Linked DNA regions of Homo sapiens. Changing the gene in region 1 together with any one later gene gives a genetic interaction. Each region holds a gene or a part of one and is shown in the gene's direction. Other genes may lie near its edges. The genes, in order: RB1, PIN1, ATP5PF, P4HA1, EBNA1BP2, FLT3LG and ANKRD52.

Region 1 (3,500 bases):
AGATACTAACTTTGAAAATAAGATATTTAAAAGGATGCTTTTTTTCTATGTATTTTTTTAAAGTGTAATTAAAACTAAATAACTAAAACAAAATTTTCTAGTTATAAATGAATCTCTTTTTGGATTTTATGTCAACTTACATATTCCTATTTTAACTCTTAAATAGTTGCATCTTTTCCCCTCAGTACATGAAAATAGACAAGAGGCTCATAACCAAAATCAGGCCTTGAAGACATATGGAAACATTTTGGAACCCACAAATATGCACTTAAAAAGGAGCTGAAAGCTGTAAAAACATGTATATTTTCTTAGAGAAGTGTTCAGTTGCTATAGTTAGTACATTTCCCAGTGACACACTTAGCTATGATGGCGAGCTTCCTCTGCCAGGCCAAAGTTCAGGACCTTTGTGCATCTACAAAATTGTGACAAAGCAGGCAGAATTTTAACCCCTGAGGCTAAGGCATTTCTTTAGGATGCTCTTCAGCTTTTCTTAAAGAATTACATTTAGAAAAGATCATCATACAATGCTGGATTGCCCAGAATGGAAGGGCATTCCATTTTTCCAAATGTGCTTCTTTATAAAGAACTCATGCCTACCTCTAAAATCAAGTTAAGAATTTTTAAGAAATTTAATAAGTATCCCGGCTTTGTCTATATTGTAATTCATAATATGCTTTTAACATGGCCATGCCCCGGGTAGGCATGATGGCTTATGTCTGTAATACCAGCACTATGGGAGGGCAAGGTGAGAGGATTGCTTGAGGCCAGGAGTTCAAGACCAGCCTGGGCAACATAGCAAGACCCCATCTTTACAAAAAAATCCAAAAATTAGCCAGGCCTGGTGGCATGTGCCTGTAGTCTTGGCTACTGGAGAGGCTGAGGTGAGAGAATTGCTTGAGCCCAGAAGGTCAAAGCTGTAGTGAGCCATGATCATGCCACTGCACTCCAGCTTGGGCAACAGAGCAAGACCTTGTCTCAAAAAAAAAAAATCCATGCCCAGTTTAAATGAGCTATGATTTGATGTATTTGCAGTACCTGCAAGGCATCTGCAAACATAAGGGAACCTATAGCTTTGTAAAGAATACCACCACTCACTCTGGCAGATTCAGTCTGGGCCAGCCGAGTATTCTAGTCTGCTGAAGTATATGCCAAGCATCAACCACCTCATCTCTAGAATAGTGGCCTACAAAATGGGGCATACCTGAAGTATGCAAAGTCATCTTTTGGGGTACATAAAGTAGAAGTTCTATTTATCTCATTTTAATGTTTGCTTGGGGTATGTGTTTTATAATTTGTACATACATACGTATTTTTGTGGTACAGGCTTGGAAAAAAATTTACTCACAGGGATATATGATTTTTAAAGATTTGGAGACCACTGTTTTTTTGGGGGGTGGGGAGGGAATTTTTTTTTTAATTGATATATCATAGTTATACATATTTTAGGGGTACATGTGATGTTTTGATACGTGTACACAATGTGTAATGATCAAATCAGGGTTATTGGGATATATATCACCTCAAACATTTTTCTTTGCATTGGGAACATTACAATTCTAGCTATTTTGAAATATGCAGTAAATTAACTGTAACTCCCTACGGTACTGTCAAATACTAGAATGAAGACCACTGCTTTTGCAAGGTCCTGAGCGCCATCAGTTTGACATGAGCATAATATATATGGCAGCCACTTGCCAACTTACCCAGTACCATCAATGCTGTTAACAGTTCTTCATCCTTTTTCCAGCTTCTACTCGAACACGAATGCAAAAGCAGAAAATGAATGATAGCATGGATACCTCAAACAAGGAAGAGAAATGAGGATCTCAGGACCTTGGTGGACACTGTGTACACCTCTGGATTCATTGTCTCTCACAGATGTGACTGTATAACTTTCCCAGGTTCTGTTTATGGCCACATTTAATATCTTCAGCTCTTTTTGTGGATATAAAATGTGCAGATGCAATTGTTTGGGTGATTCCTAAGCCACTTGAAATGTTAGTCATTGTTATTTATACAAGATTGAAAATCTTGTGTAAATCCTGCCATTTAAAAAGTTGTAGCAGATTGTTTCCTCTTCCAAAGTAAAATTGCTGTGCTTTATGGATAGTAAGAATGGCCCTAGAGTGGGAGTCCTGATAACCCAGGCCTGTCTGACTACTTTGCCTTCTTTTGTAGCATATAGGTGATGTTTGCTCTTGTTTTTATTAATTTATATGTATATTTTTTTAATTTAACATGAACACCCTTAGAAAATGTGTCCTATCTATCTTCCAAATGCAATTTGATTGACTGCCCATTCACCAAAATTATCCTGAACTCTTCTGCAAAAATGGATATTATTAGAAATTAGAAAAAAATTACTAATTTTACACATTAGATTTTATTTTACTATTGGAATCTGATATACTGTGTGCTTGTTTTATAAAATTTTGCTTTTAATTAAATAAAAGCTGGAAGCAAAGTATAACCATATGATACTATCATACTACTGAAACAGATTTCATACCTCAGAATGTAAAAGAACTTACTGATTATTTTCTTCATCCAACTTATGTTTTTAAATGAGGATTATTGATAGTACTCTTGGTTTTTATACCATTCAGATCACTGAATTTATAAAGTACCCATCTAGTACTTGAAAAAGTAAAGTGTTCTGCCAGATCTTAGGTATAGAGGACCCTAACACAGTATATCCCAAGTGCACTTTCTAATGTTTCTGGGTCCTGAAGAATTAAGATACAAATTAATTTTACTCCATAAACAGACTGTTAATTATAGGAGCCTTAATTTTTTTTTCATAGAGATTTGTCTAATTGCATCTCAAAATTATTCTGCCCTCCTTAATTTGGGAAGGTTTGTGTTTTCTCTGGAATGGTACATGTCTTCCATGTATCTTTTGAACTGGCAATTGTCTATTTATCTTTTATTTTTTTAAGTCAGTATGGTCTAACACTGGCATGTTCAAAGCCACATTATTTCTAGTCCAAAATTACAAGTAATCAAGGGTCATTATGGGTTAGGCATTAATGTTTCTATCTGATTTTGTGCAAAAGCTTCAAATTAAAACAGCTGCATTAGAAAAAGAGGCGCTTCTCCCCTCCCCTACACCTAAAGGTGTATTTAAACTATCTTGTGTGATTAACTTATTTAGAGATGCTGTAACTTAAAATAGGGGATATTTAAGGTAGCTTCAGCTAGCTTTTAGGAAAATCACTTTGTCTAACTCAGAATTATTTTTAAAAAGAAATCTGGTCTTGTTAGAAAACAAAATTTTATTTTGTGCTCATTTAAGTTTCAAACTTACTATTTTGACAGTTATTTTGATAACAATGACACTAGAAAACTTGACTCCATTTCATCATTGTTTCTGCATGAATATCATACAAATCAGTTAGTTTTTAGGTCAAGGGCTTACTATTTCTGGGTCTTTTGCTACTAAGTTCACATTAGAATTAGTGCCAGAATTTTAGGAACTTCAGAGATCGTGTATTGAGATT
Region 2 (3,500 bases), on another chromosome or scaffold:
TATAAGAGTGAGCAGGAGGGTGCAGGCATTTGGGGATGGAGCGGCATGAAGTGGGCTCCTGGGGGTCAGCAGAGCAGCCAGGCGCAGGACAGAGCTGCTCCAAGCAATCCTGATGAGAGCTGGCAGAAGGCTGAGGTCGGTGGGGATAGTGAGGAGGGCATGGGTCTGGGTGTGGTGGGCGAGGGTGTCTCGCCCATCTCTGGGTTGGACAGGTGCACCTGGTAAGTAGCCAGGCCCTGAGGCGTCACCGTAGGTACCTGCAGATTCTGGAATGTCAGCAGGAGCCTTGCCTGCCCACCTGGTGGAAGCTGTGGGAGGAATTGGAGCAAGAGGCGGTGTGACTTGAACTTGGGGGCTGGAAGTGGAAGAAGAAGTGAGAGGGAGCAGACCCGAGAGAGATTCAGGAGGCAGGATAGAGAGGACTGGGTGATGGATTAGGTGGGCAAGGGTGGGATGTCTGGGGGAGGGTCAGGGCAGAACAGCGTGGCCCACCCTGGGCTCGTACAGGGCTGGATTTCAGTGCCAGCTGTGTGGTCTTCATTTCCTGAGCCTCAGTTGCCTCATCTGTAGAATGGGGAGAGGGTGGCTATGAGGATCCAGGAGCTATGGGCTCAGTGGCTGGCGTGCTCTGCACGGTGGAGCCTCAGCCCCAGTCATTGGGGTGTGGACGATGGGGGAGCTGAGGTCAAGTCAAGGCCTCTGCTCACGGGCAGCCCCTGCTGCCACCCCACAGCCCGTAGAAAGAGTTCCGGATAGGACCACAGGAGGCCTGGTGGGCTCAGCACACAGATGATGACCTTGGCACACGACCTCCCTCTCCTGGTATCCTCCTGCCTGAGACGGTGCTGGGGCAGATCTCCTCAGAGGTCGATAGGAGGATGCAGTGAGGTGGCCCCGGCCGAGGTACACTCGGTAACAGATCATCATGTGCAGTGTCGGCGCAGGCATTGGGCACCTGGGCCTCATTTTCTCTTCCATGAAGTGGATGTTCTCCCCTCGAGGGTTCATGCCGGGTGATCAGGAGACCATGATTTGGGCAGCTCACTCCCCAGCTGGCAGCCGGGCTAAATCTCATCAGTGCCCATTTAGATCTGGTGCTCCGCCCTTGCCCCGAAGGGACAGGCTGCCTGCAGAGAGAGCCGGGACCTCCACATTTTCTGCTGAGGCTCCTTTTCCCAGCATTGGCTCCTCTGCAGCTGCTGGGCCACAGCCAGAGGCTGTCAGAGATCCAAGGGAGTCATTGCCAGTGTCCTTGTCTAAGGAGGATGGGCCATGGAGAAGCCCTCCCTGCCCGCTCTCCACCCAGATCTGTTGACAGCCACCCCTCACATGCCCAGGGCCTGGAGGGTCCCAGCAAGGCTGAGACTATGAGCAGCTGTCCTACTCACATACCCATCCCAGCATCCAGGTCAGCCCCTTTGTCCTGGGGTCCTCAAGGTCACTGGCGCCCTTCCAGCCTGCTGGCCTTGGGCCAGCCTCTAGCCCCTCCTTCTGGATCTTGGTCTTCTCAGATCTGACCCTGTCACCTCTTTCCCCGACCAGGCCCCTTCCCCTCTGGTGCCTGGGCAGCCTGGGGGAAGTATGCTGGAAGCAGCGTAATGATCTGGCAAGGCAGAGGAGACAGCACGTCTTGAAACATTTTTGGGGTCAAGGACTACCCCATTTGTTCCCTCACTCCCACCTAGGTCACTGATGTGCATTAGCTTGGACTGTTGTAACAAAATATCACAGACAGTGTGGCTTAAACAACAGTCATCACTTTCCACAGTTCTGGAGGCCAGAAGTCCACAATCCAGGTTCCCTCAGATTCTGTTCCTGGCGAGAACCCACTTCCTGGCTTGTAGACGGCTGCCCTCTCACTGTGCACTCACATGGCATTCCCCAGGCGCATGTGCACGGAGTGAAGGAGCACGAGCTCTCTGGTGTCTCTTATAAGGACACTAATCCTGGCCAGGCGCAGTGGCTCATGCCTGTAATCCCAGCACTTTGGGAGACTGAGGTGGGTGGATCACCTGAGGTCAGGAATTCAAGACCAGCCTGGCCAACATGGTAAAACTCCATCTCTACTAAAAATACTAAAAAAAAAGCCAGATGTAGTGGCGCACACCTGTGATCCCAGCTACTCAGGAGGCTGAGGCAGGAGGATCGCTGGAACCTGGGAGGCAGAGGTCACAGTGAGCCGAGATTGTACCACTGCACTCCAGCCTGGGTGACAGAGCCAGATTCTGCCTCAAAAAAAAAAGGGGCGCTAATCCTGTTGGATCAGGGCCCCACCCTTATGACCTCATTTAACCCTAGTTACTTCCCCAAAGTCCCCATCTCCAGATGCAGCCACACTGGAGGTTAGGGCTTTAACACATGAATTTGGGGTGACACAAACATTGAGTCCATAACGGATGGGCAGCTTGGATCTGTCAGGGGCCTGCTCTGCAACAGCCACTGCTTAAGCGGTCACTGATTCACTCCTTGGAACAGGCTCCAACGTGGGAGCAGCGGTTACCCCATTTTACAGGCCAGTTGAGTGAGGCTCCAAGAGGTAAAGTCACCTGCCAGACTCTCATTGTTCAGGAGCAGCAGAGGTAGGATCTGGACCTGATGGAGTCTGGAGTCAGCACCCATAACATGTCCTCCTGGACCTTGGGGATACACTGTGAGCAGGCTGGCTGGGGTCTGCCAGCACAGATAGGTGCCATTCTGTTTTGCATACTATTTCAGGGGGTCCTGAACACCTTGAAGCAGGTGGAGGCCCCTGCTCCAGACTGGGAGCTCCTGGAGAGGCCACCCTGTGTCTGTGTGGTTCTAAGCTGGAGCCACATCGAATCAGGATGGGGCTCCAGCACCCGACAGTCCCCATCAAATTTCACAGGTTTTGGCGCCGTCGGGCAAGGCTGACACATTGTCTTGGAGGAGGCCCAGGAAGTCTGGCCTTAGGGTCGCAGCCTGAGTTTCAGGCAGATAGGGCATGAGATTCCAGCATTTCTGCTTCGAGCCCCGTGGTAGATCCCTGTCTCCCTCCTTCCCCATGGCCTATTTCTGTCTCATTTATTCATTAACTTCTTGAACATTCGTGAACACCTGTTTTGTGCACAGTGCTGGGTTCTGAGGGTGCAGCAATGAAGAAGGCCAACCCAGCAGCCTCCATTCCTGCACTGTGAGGCGGGCAAGCAACACACCAATGGGACGGTAGTAAATGCAGCACCCAGGGGGAGGCACCTAACACAGTGGGGGATTAGGGGAGGCTTCTTGGGGAGACCAGAGGATAGCTGATGAGTTTCAGGCAGGACAAGAGGCTTAAACCAAGGTCTGCGAGGTGGGAGTCGGAGGATGTCATTGTCGCGGGGTCAGGTACAGGCTGAGCTAACAAGACACACAGGACCAAACCCCTCAAGGTCAGCCTCACAGAGCAGGAACTCAGGAAGAAAGCGTTTTTGTTTGTTTGTTTGTTTGTTTGTTTGTTTGTTTGAAATGGAGTTTCGCTCTTGTTGCCCACGCTGGAGTGC
Region 3 (3,500 bases), on another chromosome or scaffold:
CCATGTTTCCCAGGCTGGTCTTGAACTCCTGAGTTCAAACAATCCTCCCTCCTCGGCCTCCCAAAGTGCTGGGATTACAGGCATGAGCCACCTCGCCTGGCCTCTAAATACTTATATCTAATTTCTATATTACTTTAGACCAATAACATAGTTTGTATACTTCCACTAGTCCTATTATAACTTAGTAGAAGTCCGGTGTCAATGTGATGATGACAGTATTGCTATTAGGAAATTTGGGGAGGGCATGGGAAACATGTTAGCATATCAGATTTTCACTTGAAGATTCAGAAATTTTACCAGCCAGGGCAATATGGCAAGACCTCGTCTCTACAAAAAAAAAAAAAAAGTAAAAATTAGCCTGGTGTGATGGCACACAACTGTGCTCCCATCTACTTGGGAGGCTAAGGTGGGAGGATTGCATGAGTCCAGGAGGCTGAGGCTGTAGTGAGCCGTGTTCATTCTGGGCAACAGAGTGAGACCCTGTCTGAAAAAAAAAAAGATTGAGAAATTGTACCAGGCTGTGGTGCATTGTGAGCCTTTTGTCACCGTTCCAATATGGGGTTTGGCAAGCCCTGTCAGTTTATAGACTCGGCCTTAATCTGAGAAAAATGTATTCTACTAATTATTTATGGTCTCTTTTAATCATTTCCTTTTTTTTCTTTTTGAGACAGAGTCTTGCCCTGCATCCAGGCTGGAGTGCAGTGGTGTGATCTGGGCTCACTGCAGCCTCCGCCTCCTGAGTTCAAGTGATTCTCCTGCCTCAGCCTCCCAAATAACTGGGATTACAGGCACGCGCTAGCACGCCTGACTTATTTTTGTATGTTTAGTGGAGACAGGGTTTCACCATTTTGGGCAGGCTGGTCTCGAACCTCTGACCTCAAGTGATCCACCTGCCTCGGGCTGAAGTGCTGGGATTACACACATGAGCCACCGTGCCTGGCCCTCTTTATTCCTTTTCTTCTAGAATTCCTGTTTGTACCTATTTGTTGTAATTTGGATTATTTTTTGCATTTGATCTTTAAATCACTAAAGTAAATCTCAACAGGAATTGTCCTCTACTGAAATGTTTTAGTTAGAAAGTAATATATTTTAGCTTAAGGAAGTCTAGGGATTTGAAAGTCTTTAAGTCTTTTTTTTTTTTTTTTTTTTTTTTTTTTTTTTTTTTTTTGTGAGACGGAGTCTTGCTCTTGTTGCCCAGGCTGGAGTGCAATGGCACAATCTCGGCTCACTGCATCCTCTGCCTCCTGGGTTCAAGCAATTCTCCTGCCTCAGCCTCCTGAGTAGCTGGGATTACAGGCATGCGCCACCACGCCCAGCTAATTTTTGTATTTTTAATAGAGACAGGGTTTCTTTTTGTTGGTCAGGCTGGTCTCAAATTCCCAACCTCAGGTGATCCACCAGCCTCAGCCTCCCAAAGTGCTGGGATTACAGGCGTGAACCACTGCACCTGGCCATAAGTCCTTATTTTTAAAATTCAGACTTCCATCTCCTTCACCAATTTATTTCACTGATAAAGTTGGACTGCCGGATCCTCCCCACTGTCATGCACAGCTCATTTGGACTGGCTGCTGTTTTTCTTTGCTGGTTCTTCTGGACTTTGATTTAGTTGTTACAGTATTCTTAAATGGCTGGAATCCATTTGTAACAGGCAGAGCAGTTTCTCCCTCTGTGGGCCTGTGAAGTACACATTTTCAGGTTGTCATGCCCGGCTGAGGTATGGGAAACCTTGTACATTAGTTTGGGGGCCAGTGTACTTTTCCTGTTAGGAGCGGACAGTGTTGCAACAGTCTACCTCTACTGTTTTCTCTGATCCATGACTAAGTTCAAGGGGGAAGAAATACCTCACCTCACATTTTGTGCTCTAACCCTGATGAAGCTTCAGGCCTGAGTTTCTAACTGTTCCATTATCCCAGAGCCTTTTGGTTAAGACCTAAAAAACTTGCAATGGGGAATAAGGAGGAGAAGGGAACTGTGGTCAGGTATAGACTGAGATCTGATATGATGTAATTCTGTAGCAATTAGTAGAATTTGATTCTCATGATATATTTAGAGGTGATTTATAATAAGTATATTAACGTTTCTGCTGCTTGTTTTCTGTAACAGAATCAGCATGATTCTTCAGAGGCTCTTCAGGTTCTCCTCTGTCATTCGGTCAGCCGTCTCAGTCCATTTGCGGAGGAACATTGGTGTTACAGCAGTGGCATTTAATAAGGAACTTGATCCTATACAGAAACTCTTTGTGGACAAGATTAGAGAATACAAATCTAAGCGACAGTAAGTGAATAAATAACTACAGTGTAAATATAAATATTCAAAGTATGTAAGTTTCAAGGTGGTAATAAAAATGACTTGGTATTTGAAAGTATTAGACCTTCACTGAGCTCATCTCTGACATAGAGGTTCATTAGGTGCCCTCAAAAAAGAAGATAAGGATCTTGATTTTTTTAAGTCAGAAACTGTATCTTTATATGAGTTACAAGGGAAAATCCTACTAAATTTATTGCTGTTTAAAATACATTCTTACTGTCATGTCATGTATTATAAACCACATCAATTTATAGAAATACATAGGGTCTTGGAAATCATTTAGCAGCTAAGTTTGAAAAAAGTAACTCCCTTAGACATTGATTAGCCGAAGATCATAAAACTAATTGGGGAAAAATATATTATCAAAGTATATTTTAGCCTCAATTTAGTGGCCTTTCTGTGACATTGTAATTTGGGGGAAATGTATAAACACAGCTCTTTTTTTTAAAAGGCTATTTCCATAGTTACAGATCTCTGAGAATGTATATTAAAGGACAAAAGACTCTGAAATGACATAATGTAAGTCCAAGAAAAACAATTGTAGAACCATAGTTTTGGAAAGGAATGACCACCTTAGCTGTCATCAGGTCCAAACCCAAATCTTAGGAACAGTGAGGCGCACCAATTCATAGTTCCATTTTCTTTCATATAGTTGTCTACTGTGTGTAAAGCACTTGGCTATTAACCGTGATGGGCCACAGGGCATTTTTACAATATTCTTAAAGTCCGATAGGAGTAGAAAGCTTCTAAGCAAATAAATACAATATAAGGTAAAATGAGTTAGGTGCTAAGGTAGGGAAACGCTGGGTGCTTGGGGAGTTCATAGGAAAGAATACTCCTTTCCAGCTAGAGGCATTTTAGAGGCTTCTTGGAAGGCAGTGTTTGGGTACTCATCCCTCTTGAGAATCTCATGGACAACTGTGGATCATCTTCCCAGTTTAAAGAAAAAAACGTGAAGAATTTACTCACATCATTTTCCTTATAGCATGAAACAGTTCTCAAACCCACAGGAGGCCTTCAGTAGACCTGTACACCCAGGGGTTTACTCTAGGTTTTAAAGATCAGTGTATGAAGGTTGGACAGATAAATGAGGGTAAGAGGAGAGTATCTTTTAGGAGGAAAGAATGGTGTGAACTAAGGCATGAAAATGCCTTAGTTTGTGCTAGAAAGCACAAAATATATTTGGTGAATGG
Region 4 (3,500 bases), on another chromosome or scaffold:
TTTTTTTTTTTTTTTTTTTTTTTTGAGATGGAGTTTCACTCTGCCACCCAGGCTGGAGTGCAGTGGTGCAATCTCGGCCCACTGCAAGCTCCACCTCCCGGGTTCACGCCATTCTCCTGCCTAAGCCTCCCGAGTAGCTGGGACTACAGCCGCCCACCATCACGCCCAGCTAATTTTTTGTATTTTTAGTAGAGACGGGGTTACACCGTGTTAACCAGGATGGTCTCGATCTCTTTACCTCGTGATCTGCCCGCCTTGGCCTCCCAAAGTGCTGGGATTACAGGTGTGATCACGCCACCGTGCCCGGCCAAAGCTTTGTGTTTCTATTCAAGAAAATTTATTTGTATAAATTGAAGCTGTCCTGTCATTAGGACAGCTTCAGTTTCTCTAGTTGAATAAGTATTGTACCTAAAGAAAAGCTTTGGCAATTCAAAAGGACTCTCATTTAGGTTACTCCAGCAGTTTTTAAACTCGGTGTGGTGAAAAACATTCTTTTTCCTGGTCTTCCTTTGGATGATCAGTATGACTGTTAGTATATTTGATTTGACATTTGCTAAAAATACATTATAGAGATTCAGACTTCTTACCTAGTTGTCATCAGTGAATGAGTTCTATATTGGGCCTTTCTCTTCCTCATGTTTAGTGTTTCATAAAAATGTGTCCATATTACTCATTTCTTTCTTAAATAGTAATATTATGTGGAATTAGTACACTCAGCCTTACTCTCTCTTTTTTTTTTTTTTTTAAGAGATAGGATCTTGCTCTGTTGCCCAGGATGGAGTGCAGTGGTGTGACCATAGCTCACTGCAGCCTTGAACTCCTGGGCTCAAGCAATCCTTCTGCCTCAGCCTCCGGGTGTAGCTCGGGGTACAGATGCATGCCACCATGTCTAGCTAATTTTTTAATTTTTTGTAGAGATGGGATCTTGCTCTGTTGACCAGGCTAGTCTCGAACTCCTGGCCTCAAGTGATTCTCCCATCTGCCCCACAAAGTGTTGGGATTATAGGTGTGAGCCACCATGCCTGGTCATCCTTACTCTCTTGTTGGACACTTGAGCTGTTTCTCCATTATAAGTAGTGCAAAGAGAGGACTGTAATTTAGTGGTTTATTTTATCAACCTGTATAATTACAGTAAACTTTAACCAATTTTTTAATTTTTAAATTTATATTTAAATTTTTTTTTTTTTAGAGACAGGGCCTTACTATGTTGCCCAGGCATGGTGGCTCACACCTGTAATCACAGCACTTTGGAAGGCCGAGGCAGGAGGATCACTTGAGGCCAGGAGTTCAAGACCAGCCTGGTCAGCATAGTGAGACCCCATCTCTCTACAAAAAAAATTTTTTTTTAATTAAGGGGGCATGAGGTTGCATGCATCTGTAGTCTAACTACTTGGGAGGCTGAGGTGGGAGGGTCGCTTGAGCCCAAGAGTTGGAAGCTGCAGTGAGCTATGATAGCACCATTGCACTCTAGCCTGGGTGAGAGTGCAAGACCCTGTCTCTAAAAAAAAAAAAAAAAAAAAGAAAAGAAAAAAAAATTATTTACAATATGGCCAGTAGACTGTAGGAAAATCAAGAATGATGAGAAATGTTTCATAGGAGAAGTAGGACATAAAAATTACATGATATAGCACCATGTGGCTAACATTTTACTAGATATTAAATCTGTAGCACTGAATGGAAATGCATATCTAGATTCACATCCTCTACAACCATGAATTCATTTTTCCCTGTTCTAGTATACATGGTCTTATTTTGTCTCTCTTTACCTCAACTTGAGAAATTTGGATCTGGCATTAGAGTAAACAGATAATTGAAGACTAGAAAGAGGTAGACTGGGTGGAAATAAAAGTGGAATTTTGACAGAATAGCCTTGGGAGGGATGAAGCTGAGTATACCTGGGCCTCAGAGCAATAATCCATTTTTTAGGAGGAAAGGGACTGCTAAAGCCAGCTTTTGAGTATTCTACTCTGACCTGAGTGGCCTTGGTCTGAATAGCTCATGTTCAGAGATAAGAGTATATTTAACTTTTTTGTACTAAGAATAGTATTTGAGTAATGTTATAGGTACATATGAGAATTTGGCCTTCATCTCTGCCGAGTCAGTTAAACACAAGTTTCTCTAGATATTTCCATTACAAGAATCAAAGCTCTTTGATTTTTGGAACTTCAGTAAAACCCAAGAATGAATAGCCGAGAACTATCATACAAGTCATAAAATTAAAAGGCATTGAACAGTGTATGAAGCATCAGATATCCTGTTACATGTGTCTGCAACAATAAATTAAATATTGATTAACTGATTTTAAGTAGGCTCAAGACTTCTCTTACAGTTCTAATCTTATATTAACTAGATTTGCATATCTAATTTCTCCAAAAATATGATCAAGAAATGTTTATTTTAGTCTAGGCGTGGTGGCTCACATCTGTAATCCCAGTGCTTTGGGAGGCTGAGGTGGGAAGATCTCTGGAGCCCAGGAGTTCAAGGCTGCTGTGAGCTCTGATTGTTCCACTCCACTCCAGCCTGGGTGACAGAGCCAGACCCTGTCTCAAAAAAACAAAAAAAGTTGGTATTTCTAAAACCTACTGGTTGAATTTAGGACCTCAAAATGTTACTTGTGTGTGTGACCTTTGTTCTTGCCCTATGGTTCTGACAACCTTCCTCCTTTTTATTTATTTATTTATTTATTTATTTATTTTTTTGGTAAACTCAGGCAACATATTCATAGTCAAAGGTTACATGAAGACATTCTCAAATTTACATGATTTCAAAATTTAGTTACTTCTTTTTTTTTTTTTTTTTTTTTTTTGAGATGGACTCTCACTCTGTCACCCAGGCTGGAGTGCAGTGGCGCAATCTCGGTTCACGGCAACCTCTGCCTCCTGGGTTCAAGCAATTCTCTGCCTCAGCCTCCCGAGTAGCTGGGATTACAGGCACCCGCCACCACGCCCGACTACTTTTTTGTATTTTTAGTAGAGACAGGGTGTCACCATCTTGGCCGGGCGGGTCTCGAACTCCTGACCGGGGGTGATCCATCAGCCTCGGCCTCCCAAAGTGCTGGGATTACAGGCATGAGCCACCGCACCTGGCCTGCAGTTACTTCCTTTAACCTCAAAGATATTTTGAAAATAGACCTCAATTTACTATGCCTGAATTTAAAAAACCTTAATATTGTATTTGAAAATAGTGAATAGTGACCATTGCCACCAAGTAGAGTGATAGTAATAAGTAAAACACTAATCTTTGATATAAGGGTGATTACTAATAAATTGAATAAACTGATATATTTTAACGACTTTATTGAGCAAAATTGACAGGACAAATTGCATATATTTACAGTGTACAATTTGATAAATTTGACAAAAATATCTACTTAAAAAAATATCAGTACAATCAAGATAAGGAACATATCCATCACCTTCAAGAGTATCCTCAAGGTCAGGCACAGTGGCTTAGGCCTGTAATCCCAACCCTTTGGGTGGCCGAGGCAGGAGGACTGCTTG
Region 5 (2,804 bases), on another chromosome or scaffold:
ACAGGTGCCTGCCATCACACCCAGCTAATTTTTGTATTTGTAGTAGAGACAGGGTTTCACCATGTTGGCCAGGCTGGTTGTGAACTCCTGGCCTCAAGTGATTCACTCACCTCAGCCTCCCAAAGTGCTGGGATTATAGGTGTGAACCACTGCACCCATCCTAAGAAGGTACTTTTAAGTATGTGGCACCCTTTAAGTGAATGCTGAGTAAAGTTGATTCCCCATCACACAGTGCGATGGTTGAGAGTTCAGACCTAGGGTTCAGATCCCGACTCTACCACTCAGTAGGAGGGCAGTTTTGAACGAGTTACCATGCCTTTCTAAATGCTAATTGCCTCATCTGCTAAGTTGAGGAAATAGTGTCTGCCTCATAGTATGAAGACTGAAAGAGAGAATGTGGGCTCTCATTGTTTTTTCTAGTCTGCTTTTTTGCATACCTGGATACCAGGCCTAGGGGAAATGATAATTTCCATGTAAGATAGTAAGTGCTATGATAGAGGCATTTGGGGATTAGTACTGAGTCAGCTTTTATAAATACCTGACAGGGTCTGGGGTGGATTTCTGGAGGAGCGTTCGACTTGAGCATTGCTTGAAGCATGAGTAGGAATTAACCACGAGAATAGAAGAGAAGCTGGGTTTGGGAAGAAGTAAGAGCTTGAACGAGCAAAGCCATCGAGATGTGAAACCTCAGGGTTTTGTGAGGAACAGTAAGCCCTTGGTGTCACTGGGAATACAGTGCAAAGCAAGGAGGGGTGCAATGTGTTTGGGGGGACCTGGGCTGTGGGTTTGCCTTGTTGAGGAGCTTGGGCTTTGTCAGAAGGCAGTGGAGAGACTAGGTTGTAGGTTGTACTAACAGTAATGAGCAGGTTATATTCATGTTTTTAAAAAGATCACAGTGGATTTTGTATAAGTGACAGACTTGAGGGAAGCTGGGAAATTGACAAGGGTACTATTGCAAAAGTCGAGATAAGGATTGAAGAAACATTTAAGAGGTGAAATGAGCAGGACTCAGTAATTGAATTGGGTATAAAGAGTGAGAGAAGAACCAAGGCTGACTCCCACATGTTTAGCCTGTGTGTCTGGGTTGGTGGGAGCAGCGCCAGCCTCAAGTGAGGGCATATGTACAGGAAGCAGAGCCAGTCCAGGAGATGATGTGAATTTGGAGATGCTGAATTCAAGATTCCTATTGGATGACCAGTTTTACATTTGAATGTTATTCCATTTGAATGTTATTTGAATGCCTATAATTACATTTGAATGTTTACATTTGAACGTATTCATTACATTACATTTGAATGTTACAAATGTAACATATTACATTTGGATGTTAACTGCATGTATTTACCCTTGAGAGGAATAGACACAACTGAGGGTGATTTAATAAGATTTGGTTAAAATAGAAAGCTTTCTAAAGACAGCAGGAAGCCATGTAATATATGTAGAGCCTTCCCTGCTTCTTGCTTTATTTTCCTGCCCTGGTGGTCAAAACTGTAAATAGGTGAGCTAGATGAGTTTGTCTAGAGAGGCTGTAGCATAGGATTGTGGGGCCAAGGATGAGATTCTGGGTTACAGACGTGCCTAAGGGGCTTTGCTTATAGAAAGGAAACTGAGAGCATTGCTGGGCCATCAGGTTCATCAGGCTTTACAGTGCTGTAGTGATGTCTAGGACCATTCTTTTCCAGGCCCAGTGCTAAACGACGGTATAAAAACCAGAAGTTTGGTTTTGGTGGAAAGAAGAAAGGCTCAAAGTGGAACACTCGGGAGAGCTATGATGATGTATCTAGCTTCCGGGCCAAGACAGCTCATGGCAGAGGCCTCAAGAGGCCTGGCAAGAAAGGGTCAAATGTAAGTGAGCCCAGGTGCCCGGGTGAGGAGCAGGCTCAGCCTCCCCTCCCACTCCCAACCCTGCCCTCTCCCTTCAGTTCTGTTCGTCCTCACCCTGGGGCAGAAGGCAAGCTGCTATGTGACCAGATGTGGTATGTCTTTTTCTGTAGAAGAGACCTGGAAAACGAACAAGAGAGAAGATGAAGAACAGAACACACTAAATAGCATCTTTGAATACAAAGAACCAAGAAAAAGGAATGAAGACTCGCAATTTCACGACACACTTTGATCCCTTCTGTTGGTGTCATGTTGTAAACATTTCTTTCAATAAACTAAAGAAAAATTATTAAAGGAACACATACCTTTGGTTAAATAGTCTAGACTAAAAGATTGAGAAGTTACTTTCCATTGCTATCTATTGATAATTTAGACATTGAGTTCAAATTGCCTTCATTTTATGATAAATAATGATTTAACTGACACCTTCTCATTTCCTTTGTCTCATCCTTCTAAATAGTTATATTACGATCAATCCCTGTAAAGCTCAATGCCCATATTTTACAGGTGTGAGCCACCGTGATTTTCTTTGTGGTACAGCTTTTGGTTTTTCCTCCAGTTAACCTTCACCTTACATTCTTCTGCTTGCCTAATTTTCCTTCTATATTCTTAGTTCTTTCCAGATGCTTTGTCATTTTACCCACTTTATAATTTTTCTCCTACAACCTAGTTATGCCACACAACTGTCACCTTTTTTCTAGACCGTTTAAGTTGGCACCATTATTTCCAGAATCCCATGTTTTCCCATCTTAGCATATGCCTTCTTTTGCTGTGTACCATTTTTTGGTATCTTACTAAGAAAGGGAAGATGAGAGGTAAACTTTTTATCTCCTTGCATTTCTGAAATTGCCTTTAATTTGGGCTGATAGGAATTTCCTCCTTAGAATTTTAGAATTTCGCAGGCACTGTTTTTAAGTTTTATT
Region 6 (3,500 bases), on another chromosome or scaffold:
CAGGGGCAGCTCTAGGTGCAGAAAGACCCCTCTGGGGCCAGGCGCGGTGGCTCACGCCTGTAATCCCAGCACTTTGGGAGGCCGAGGCGGGTGGATCACTTGAGGTCAGGAGTTCAAGACCAGCCTGGCCAACATGGCAAACCCCAGTCTCTACTAAAAATACAAAAATTAACTGGGCATAGTGGTGTGTGCCTGTAATCCCAGCTACTCAGGAGGCTGAGGAAGGAGAATTGCTTGAACCCAGGAGGCGGAGGTTGCAGTGAGCCGAGATTGCGCCACTGGACTCCAGCCTGAGTGACAGAGCTAGACTCCGTCTCAAAAAAAAAAAAAAAAAAGAAAAGGAAAGACCCCTCTGGGGCCACGGAGACAGACTGGAGACCAAGCCGGAGGCTGTGGGAAGGCCCAGGGTGAGGACCATGACTGAGCCAGGGCTGGGACCATGGGATGGAGTGGAGTGGATGGGCAGAGAGTCAGGGGTCAGAGATCAGGAGGGACCGGCCTGGGGCCTGACAGGCTTGAGTTGGCACAGATAGCCCTGGTCCAGTGATGGGGTGGACAGGGGGGAACCTGGGGGAGGAGTCAGATTAGGGAAAGACATGGAGCTCACTGGGGACCTGAAGGAGCAAGGGGCCCTGGGGAGATCTGTGGATGTGGGAGTTTGCAAGCCTCCTGGGACAGGAAGGAAATGGCATTCCAGAAAGAGGGAACTGCCTTTGGAAGCCCTTTGGTATGAGAAAGCTCAGGGTGTTCCAGTAACTTGGGCCAGCGTGGGGCAGCAAGGAGCCATGGGAGGTGTGAGAGGGAGGAAAGGAGCTGGGAACAGGTGTGGAGGGTGCAGGCAGGTAGGCAGGTGGGCCAGGAGGGAAGAAGGAGGGGAGGCCCCAGCGGGTCCCCTAACATTTCAAATCTAACATTTTGTAGTAATTGCTCGCACATATAGTGCCTTGGTAATGCAGGCCTCATGTGGGGCTGGCTTGCTTGCTTTATTTTTTTTTGAGATGGACTCTCACTCTGTCACCCAGGCTGGAGTGCAGTGGCGGGATCTTGGCTCACTGCAACCTCCACCTCCCAGGTTCAAGCAATTCTCCTGCCTCAGCCTCCCAAGTAGCTGGGATTACAGGCGCCCGCCACCATGCCTGGCTAATTTTTTGTATTTTTAGTAGAGATGGGGTTTCGCCATGTTGGCCAGGCTGGTCTCAAACTCCTGATCTCAGCTGATCCGCCCGCCTCAGCCTCCCAAAGTGCTGGGATGACAGGTGTGAGCCACTGTTCCTGGCCCATGCTGGGCTTTCCACAAATGAACTCACTTCCTTGAGAAGTTCGTGCCATTATGATCCCAAGGCATAGAGAGGTAAATAATTTGCCAAAAGTCACACAGCTCAAGGGTGACAACCAAGATTTGACTTCAGGTTGTCTTTTTTTTTTTTTTGAGATGGAGTCTTGCTCTGTCGCCCAGGCTGTAGTGCAGTGGCATGATCTCGGCTCACTGCAGCCCCCGCCTCCCAGGTTCAAGTGATTCTCCTGCCTCAGCCTCTGGAGTAGCTGGGATTACAGGTACCCACCACCACACTCGGCTAATTTTTGTATTTGTAGTAGAGACGGGGTTTCACCATGTTGGCCAGGCTGGTCTCGAACTCCTGACCTTAGCTGATCCGCCCGCCTCAGCCTCCCAAAGTGCTGGGATTACAGGCATGAGCCACCACGCCCGGCCTCGAGTTTGTCTTGATCCAGCATCTGTGCCCTTCACTCTGCTGCCTCAGTTTCCTGATCTGTACAAAAGGCTCTAATAATAGTCCTTCCACCATAGGGTTGTTATGGGGTGAAGTGAAGTGACACAGGCAAGGCTCTTAGAGCAACGCAGTGGAAACGGCATGTGAGCCACCTGTGCGATTTTCACTTTCCTGGTAGCCACATTTTTTTTTTTTTTTTCCTGAGATGGAGTCTCACTCTGTCGCCAGGTTGAAGTGCAGTGGTGTGATCTCAGCTCACTGCAACCTCCACCTCCCGGGTTCAAGCGATTCTCCTGCTTCAGTCTACCGAGTAGCTGGGATTACAGGCACGCGCCATCACGCCCGGCTAATTTTTTGTGTTTTTAGTAGAGACAAGGTTTCACCATGTTGGTCAGGCTGGTCTCGAACTCCTGACCTCATGATCCACCCGCCTCAGCCTCCCAAAGTGCTGGGATTACAGGCGTGAGCCACCGCGCCCGGGGTCACAGTTTTTAAAAAAGGAAAAAGAAGCAGGTAACTTTATTTTATGCAGTATATCCAAAATGTTGTTATTTCAACATGTAATCAGTATTTCTCAATGATTAATGAGACATTAATCAGTTGGAATCATTCATCATTTTGGGATATTTTACATTCTTTTGTCATACTAAGCCTTCAGCATCCAACGTATAGTTTATTTATTTATTTATTTTTCCTTTTGAGATGGATTCTCGCTCTGTCACCCAGGCTGGAGTGCAGTGGCGCGATCTCAGCTCACTGCAACCTCGGACTCCCTGGTTCAGGCGATTCTCCTGCCTCAGCCTCCCGAGTACCTGGGATTACGCCACCACACCCAGCTAATTTTTGTACTTTTAGTAGAGACCGGGTTTCACCATGTTGGCCAGGATGATCTCCATCCCCTGACCTCGTGATCCGCCCGCCTCAGCCTCCCAAAGTGCTGGATTACAAGTGTAAGCCACCGCGCCCAGCCCAGACAATAAATTTTTATCAGAAATGCTTCATCTATATTTAAATTTCATGAAATTTACAGTTGCCAAAAGTAGACTCACATAGTCAAGTTGTTCAAAACATACATTAAACCAGCCTGGGCCACATGGTGAAACCCCATCTCTACAAAAAATTTTAAAAAGTAGCTGGGTGTGGTGGCACATGCCTGCAGTCCCAGCTACTTAGGAGGCAAAGTAGGAGGATTGCTTGAGCCCAGGAGGTCGAGGCTGCAGTGAGCCCTGATTGTGCCACTGCACTCCAGCCTGGGTGAGAGAGCAAGACCCTGTCTCAAAAACAAAAAAACCACACAGAAGAGTTTAGAATCCCAGTTGCTATCTCTGGGAATCATCATGATTGCTAAGACCGGTATCTATCCAACAACAACAAAAATAATTAGTGCACTCCAGCCTGGGCAATAGAGGGAGACTCTGTCTCAAAAAAAAAAAAAAAAAAAAAAAAAAGATCAAAGACCAGTATCTAAATTGCTCTGTCGCCCAGGGTGGAGTGCAGTGGCACGATCTCGGCTCACTGCAACCTCCGCCTCCCGGGTTCAAGTGATTCTCCTGCCTCAGCCTCCCCAGTAGCTTGGACTACAGGCGCGTGCCACCACACCCAGCTAATTTTTGTATTTTTAGTAGAGGTAGGGTTTCACTATGTTTGCCAGGATTGTCTCGATCTCTTGACCTCGTGATCTGCCCGCCTCAGCCTCCCAAAGTGCTGGGATTATAGGCGTGAGCCACCACGCCCAGCCTATCTTTTTTTTTTTTTTTAAGAAAAGGTAAT
Region 7 (3,500 bases), on another chromosome or scaffold:
AGGGGATAAGCACAGTGCAGGGTAGGAAGCCTTAAGGGGCCCAAGGAGCTTGTCAAGGACTAAGACCTTGAGCTTCCCAGGGACCCCAAGAGCAGAGAAGGGGAAGGGAGGAGCAGGGAAGGTCCCGAGCTGTGTGCACTGGTTGCCTGCACCTTGCCAGGCCTACAACGGTCACTGTGAAGCCTTGAAGACGCTGGCGGAGACGCTGGTGAATCTGGACGTAAGGGACCACAAGGGCCGGACCGCACTCTTCCTGGCCACGGAGCGCGGCTCTACTGAGTGTGTGGAGGTGCTTACAGCCCACGGCGCCTCTGCCCTCATCAAGGAGCGCAAGCGCAAGTGGACACCCCTGCACGCTGCTGGTTAGTGCCCACTTTAGGCTGCTGCCCTACCCTTGCCATGCCAGATCCCTCCTGGATGGGAATGGGGCTGGAAAGTGGAGTAGGGTGAGGAGAATGGAGACTTCAAGCCCTGATTCATAGCTTCCTATCCTCAGAGATTTCTCCCTGGCCCAGGTCTTTCTGTAACATTGACCCCAAGTCCTTTAGGCTTGACCTTGCCTCCCTTCTTCCTCCTGGCCCTGCCCTGACACGGGGTCCCTTTCCCCTAGCTGCCTCTGGCCACACTGACTCCCTGCACTTGCTGATCGACAGTGGGGAACGAGCTGACATCACAGATGTCATGGATGCCTATGGACAGTGAGTGTGGGCCAGGGTGGGGTGCAGGTTTTCCAGTCCTTGCGGGATCCTCACTCCTCCTCCTGCCCTTCTGTAGGACCCCACTGATGCTGGCCATCATGAATGGCCATGTGGACTGTGTACATCTGCTGCTAGAGAAAGGATCCACAGCTGATGCTGCTGACCTCCGGGGCCGCACTGCCCTCCACCGCGGGGTGAGTGAGCTTCTAGGGGGGATTGTTTGCACATGGGCCTCAGTGTGGGAGCATGGGACTCACCAGCAGTAGGGAATCCAATTGTCTAGGAGGCAAGCCAGGATTTTGTGCCGTCTTTTTTCTTTTTCTTTTTTTTTTTTTTTTTTGAGACAGGGTCTCACTCCCATTGCCCAGGTTGGAGTGCAGTGACACTATCACAGCTCACTGCAGCCTTGACTTCCTGGGCTCAGGTGATTCTCGCACCTCAGCCTCCTAAGTAGCTGAAACTGTAGGCACATGCCATCATGCCCAGCTAATTTTTGTATTTTTTGTAGATATGGGGGTCTTACCATCTTGCCCAAGCTGGTCTTGAACTCCTGGGTTCAAGTGATCCCCCCACCTTGGCCTCCCGAAGTGCTGGGATTACAGGCATGAGCCACCAGACCCACGCTGTGCCCAGGATTTTATTGAGCTTTGTGCTTGCTCCAGGATGAGTTCCTGACGTCCCCAGCTGATTTCCCTGATATCTGTGCTTTGTTTATTATTATTATTATTATTATTATTATTATTATTATTATTATTATTATTATTATTGAGATAGAGTCTCGCTCTGTCACCCAGGCTGGAGTGCAGTGGCGTGATCTCGGCTCACTGCAACCTCCGCCTCCTGGGTTCAAGCAATTCTCCTGCCTCAGCCTCCCGAGTAGCTGGGATTACAGGCGCCTGCCACCACGCCTGGCTAATTTTTGTATTTTTAGTAGAGACAGGGTTTCACCGTGTTAGCCAGGGTAGTCTCAATCTCCTGATGATGAGATCCACCCGCCTTGGCCTCCCAAAGGGTTGGGATTACAGGCGTGAGCCACTGTGCCTGGCCAATATCTGTGCTTTGTAATCACGTACAACTGAGTGCTCACCACCCAGACTCTACCTGGGATACCCTGCTGGCCCCAACCCATCGCATAATGTCGCCACAACCTAGATCCTCTTCCGTGACCACCTGTCCTAAGCTGCCTCCTCCTCCCATAAGATTTTTTGATCCCTTAGTCTCCTTCTCTCCATTTAGTCTTTCCAGTATTAACTCCAGAGCTCCAGTATTAACTCTTAGTATCCTGATTGTCTGCTGGCATAGAGAGAGTCAAGGAGGGAGATGTGGGTCCCTAATACTTAGAATTGTTGTTGTAAAGGGCCGGGCATGGTGGCTCACGTCTGTAATCCCAGCACTTTGGAAGGCCAAGGCGGGCAGATCACCTGAAGTCAGGAGTTTGAGACCAGCCTGGCCAACATGGTGAAACTTCGCCTCTACTAAAAATACAAAAATTAATTGGGCATGGTGGTGCATGCCTATAATCCCAGCTACTTGGGAGGCTGAGACAGGAGAATTGCTGGAACCTGGGAGGCAGAGGTTGCAGTGAGCCAAGATCGCACCATTGCACTCCAGCCTGGGTGACAGAGTGAGACTCCGTCTCAAAAAAAGAAAGAATTATTGTTGTAAAGACAAGGATTGAGGCCAGTGGCTCATGCCTGTAATCCCAGCACTTTGGGAGGCCGAGGCAGGCGGATCACGAGGTGAGGAGATCAAGACCATCCTGGCTAACGTGGTGAAACCCTGTCTCTACTAAAAATACAAAAAAATTGGCCGGGCATGGTGGCACCTGCCTGTAATCCCAGCTACTTGGGAGGCTGAGGCAGGAGAATCGCTTGAACCGGGGAGGCAGAGGTTGCAGTGAGCCGAGATTATGCCACTGCACTCCAGCCTGGGCGACAGAGCAAGACTCCGACTCCAAAAAAAAAAAAAAAAAAAAAAAGACAAGGATTGGAGCCCTGGAAGTGGTTCTTACTCCTGAGCCAGACTCCAGCAACAGGCCAGTGGAAAAGGAGGAGCTTTTCATCCCCCTCACACCCCCATGTTACTCACAGGCAGTGACTGGCTGTGAGGACTGCCTGGCTGCCCTGCTGGACCACGACGCATTTGTGCTGTGCCGAGACTTTAAGGGCCGCACGCCCATTCACCTGGCCTCAGCCTGTGGCCACACTGCAGTACTGCGGACCCTGCTGCAGGCTGCCCTTTCCACAGATCCCCTGGATGCCGGGGTGGATTACAGCGGATACTCGCCCATGCACTGGGCCTCCTACACTGGTACTAGACTGGGGCCTCCACAGGCACAGGAGCATGTGTTGGAGTGTGTGTAGAGGGGGACAGGTGGGTTGTTGGGGGGGACCTGGGTTGATCTGAATCTGGAAGTGGAATGGAGTGTCAAGACACAGGACAGACAGGGAACCTTGCCGTTTTTCTCCATCACTACTCTTCCTTCCTCGTGCCCAGGACATGAAGATTGTCTGGAGTTGTTACTTGAACACAGCCCGTTTTCGTACCTGGAAGGAAACCCCTTCACTCCTTTGCACTGTGCAGTGTAAGTCCCTTCTGCTGCATCAGCCCTTCTCGCGAGGGCCCATGACTTGAGCTTAGGACAGGTAGTCTACTTCCCTTGTCCTTCCTGATGACCCCTCCTCCCTCTTCCTCTAGGATTAATAACCAAGACAGCACCACAGAGATGCTACTGGGAGCTCTGGGTGCCAAGATTGTGAACAGCCGAGATGCCAAAGGACGGTGAGTGATGGAAGACTTGGG

The links.
Region 2: changes in RB1 (region 1) and PIN1 together harm fitness more than expected from each alone (negative genetic interaction), as found in Homo sapiens cells (one large-scale study listed by BioGRID).
Region 3: changes in RB1 (region 1) and ATP5PF together harm fitness more than expected from each alone (negative genetic interaction), as found in Homo sapiens cells (one large-scale study listed by BioGRID).
Region 4: changes in RB1 (region 1) and P4HA1 together harm fitness more than expected from each alone (negative genetic interaction), as found in Homo sapiens cells (one large-scale study listed by BioGRID).
Region 5: changes in RB1 (region 1) and EBNA1BP2 together harm fitness more than expected from each alone (negative genetic interaction), as found in Homo sapiens cells (one large-scale study listed by BioGRID).
Region 6: changes in RB1 (region 1) and FLT3LG together harm fitness more than expected from each alone (negative genetic interaction), as found in Homo sapiens cells (one large-scale study listed by BioGRID).
Region 7: changes in RB1 (region 1) and ANKRD52 together harm fitness more than expected from each alone (negative genetic interaction), as found in Homo sapiens cells (one large-scale study listed by BioGRID).

Annotation. Positions count from the first base shown.
Region 1 is NC_000013.11:48,478,251-48,481,750, forward strand, and holds part of RB1 (retinoblastoma-associated protein), read left to right. Parts: intron 1-1,728; coding exon of another isoform or gene 1,729-1,747; coding exon 1,748-1,821; 3' UTR 1,822-3,500. UniProt on the Homo sapiens protein: Tumor suppressor that is a key regulator of the G1/S transition of the cell cycle. The hypophosphorylated form binds transcription regulators of the E2F family, preventing transcription of E2F-responsive genes.
Region 2 is NC_000019.10:9,841,818-9,845,317, forward strand, and holds part of PIN1 (peptidyl-prolyl cis-trans isomerase NIMA-interacting 1), read left to right. Parts: intron 1-3,500. UniProt on the Homo sapiens protein: Peptidyl-prolyl cis/trans isomerase (PPIase) that binds to and isomerizes specific phosphorylated Ser/Thr-Pro (pSer/Thr-Pro) motifs.
Region 3 is NC_000021.9:25,728,405-25,731,904, reverse strand, and holds part of ATP5PF (ATP synthase peripheral stalk subunit F6, mitochondrial isoform a precursor), read left to right. Parts: intron 1-2,103; coding exon of another isoform or gene 2,104-2,110; coding exon 2,111-2,274; intron 2,275-3,500. UniProt on the Homo sapiens protein: Subunit F6, of the mitochondrial membrane ATP synthase complex (F(1)F(0) ATP synthase or Complex V) that produces ATP from ADP in the presence of a proton gradient across the membrane which is generated by electron transport complexes of the respiratory chain.
Region 4 is NC_000010.11:73,090,367-73,093,866, reverse strand, and holds part of P4HA1 (prolyl 4-hydroxylase subunit alpha-1 isoform 2 precursor), read left to right. Parts: intron 1-3,500. UniProt on the Homo sapiens protein: Catalyzes the post-translational formation of 4-hydroxyproline in -Xaa-Pro-Gly- sequences in collagens and other proteins.
Region 5 is NC_000001.11:43,163,684-43,166,487, reverse strand, and holds the end of EBNA1BP2 (probable rRNA-processing protein EBP2), read left to right. Parts: intron 1-1,682; coding exon 1,683-1,845; intron 1,846-1,994; coding exon 1,995-2,045; 3' UTR 2,046-2,304; downstream 2,305-2,804. UniProt on the Homo sapiens protein: Required for the processing of the 27S pre-rRNA.
Region 6 is NC_000019.10:49,480,715-49,484,214, forward strand, and holds part of FLT3LG (fms-related tyrosine kinase 3 ligand isoform 1 precursor), read left to right. Parts: intron 1-1,160; exon of another isoform or gene 1,161-1,163; coding exon of another isoform or gene 1,164-1,164; exon of another isoform or gene 1,165-1,202; intron 1,203-3,500. UniProt on the Homo sapiens protein: Stimulates the proliferation of early hematopoietic cells by activating FLT3. Synergizes well with a number of other colony stimulating factors and interleukins. Required for the development of B cells, and dendritic cells (DCs).
Region 7 is NC_000012.12:56,244,885-56,248,384, reverse strand, and holds part of ANKRD52 (serine/threonine-protein phosphatase 6 regulatory ankyrin repeat subunit C), read left to right. Parts: intron 1-160; coding exon 161-362; intron 363-610; coding exon 611-698; intron 699-774; coding exon 775-892; intron 893-2,788; coding exon 2,789-3,008; intron 3,009-3,194; coding exon 3,195-3,282; intron 3,283-3,395; coding exon 3,396-3,479; intron 3,480-3,500. UniProt on the Homo sapiens protein: Putative regulatory subunit of protein phosphatase 6 (PP6) that may be involved in the recognition of phosphoprotein substrates.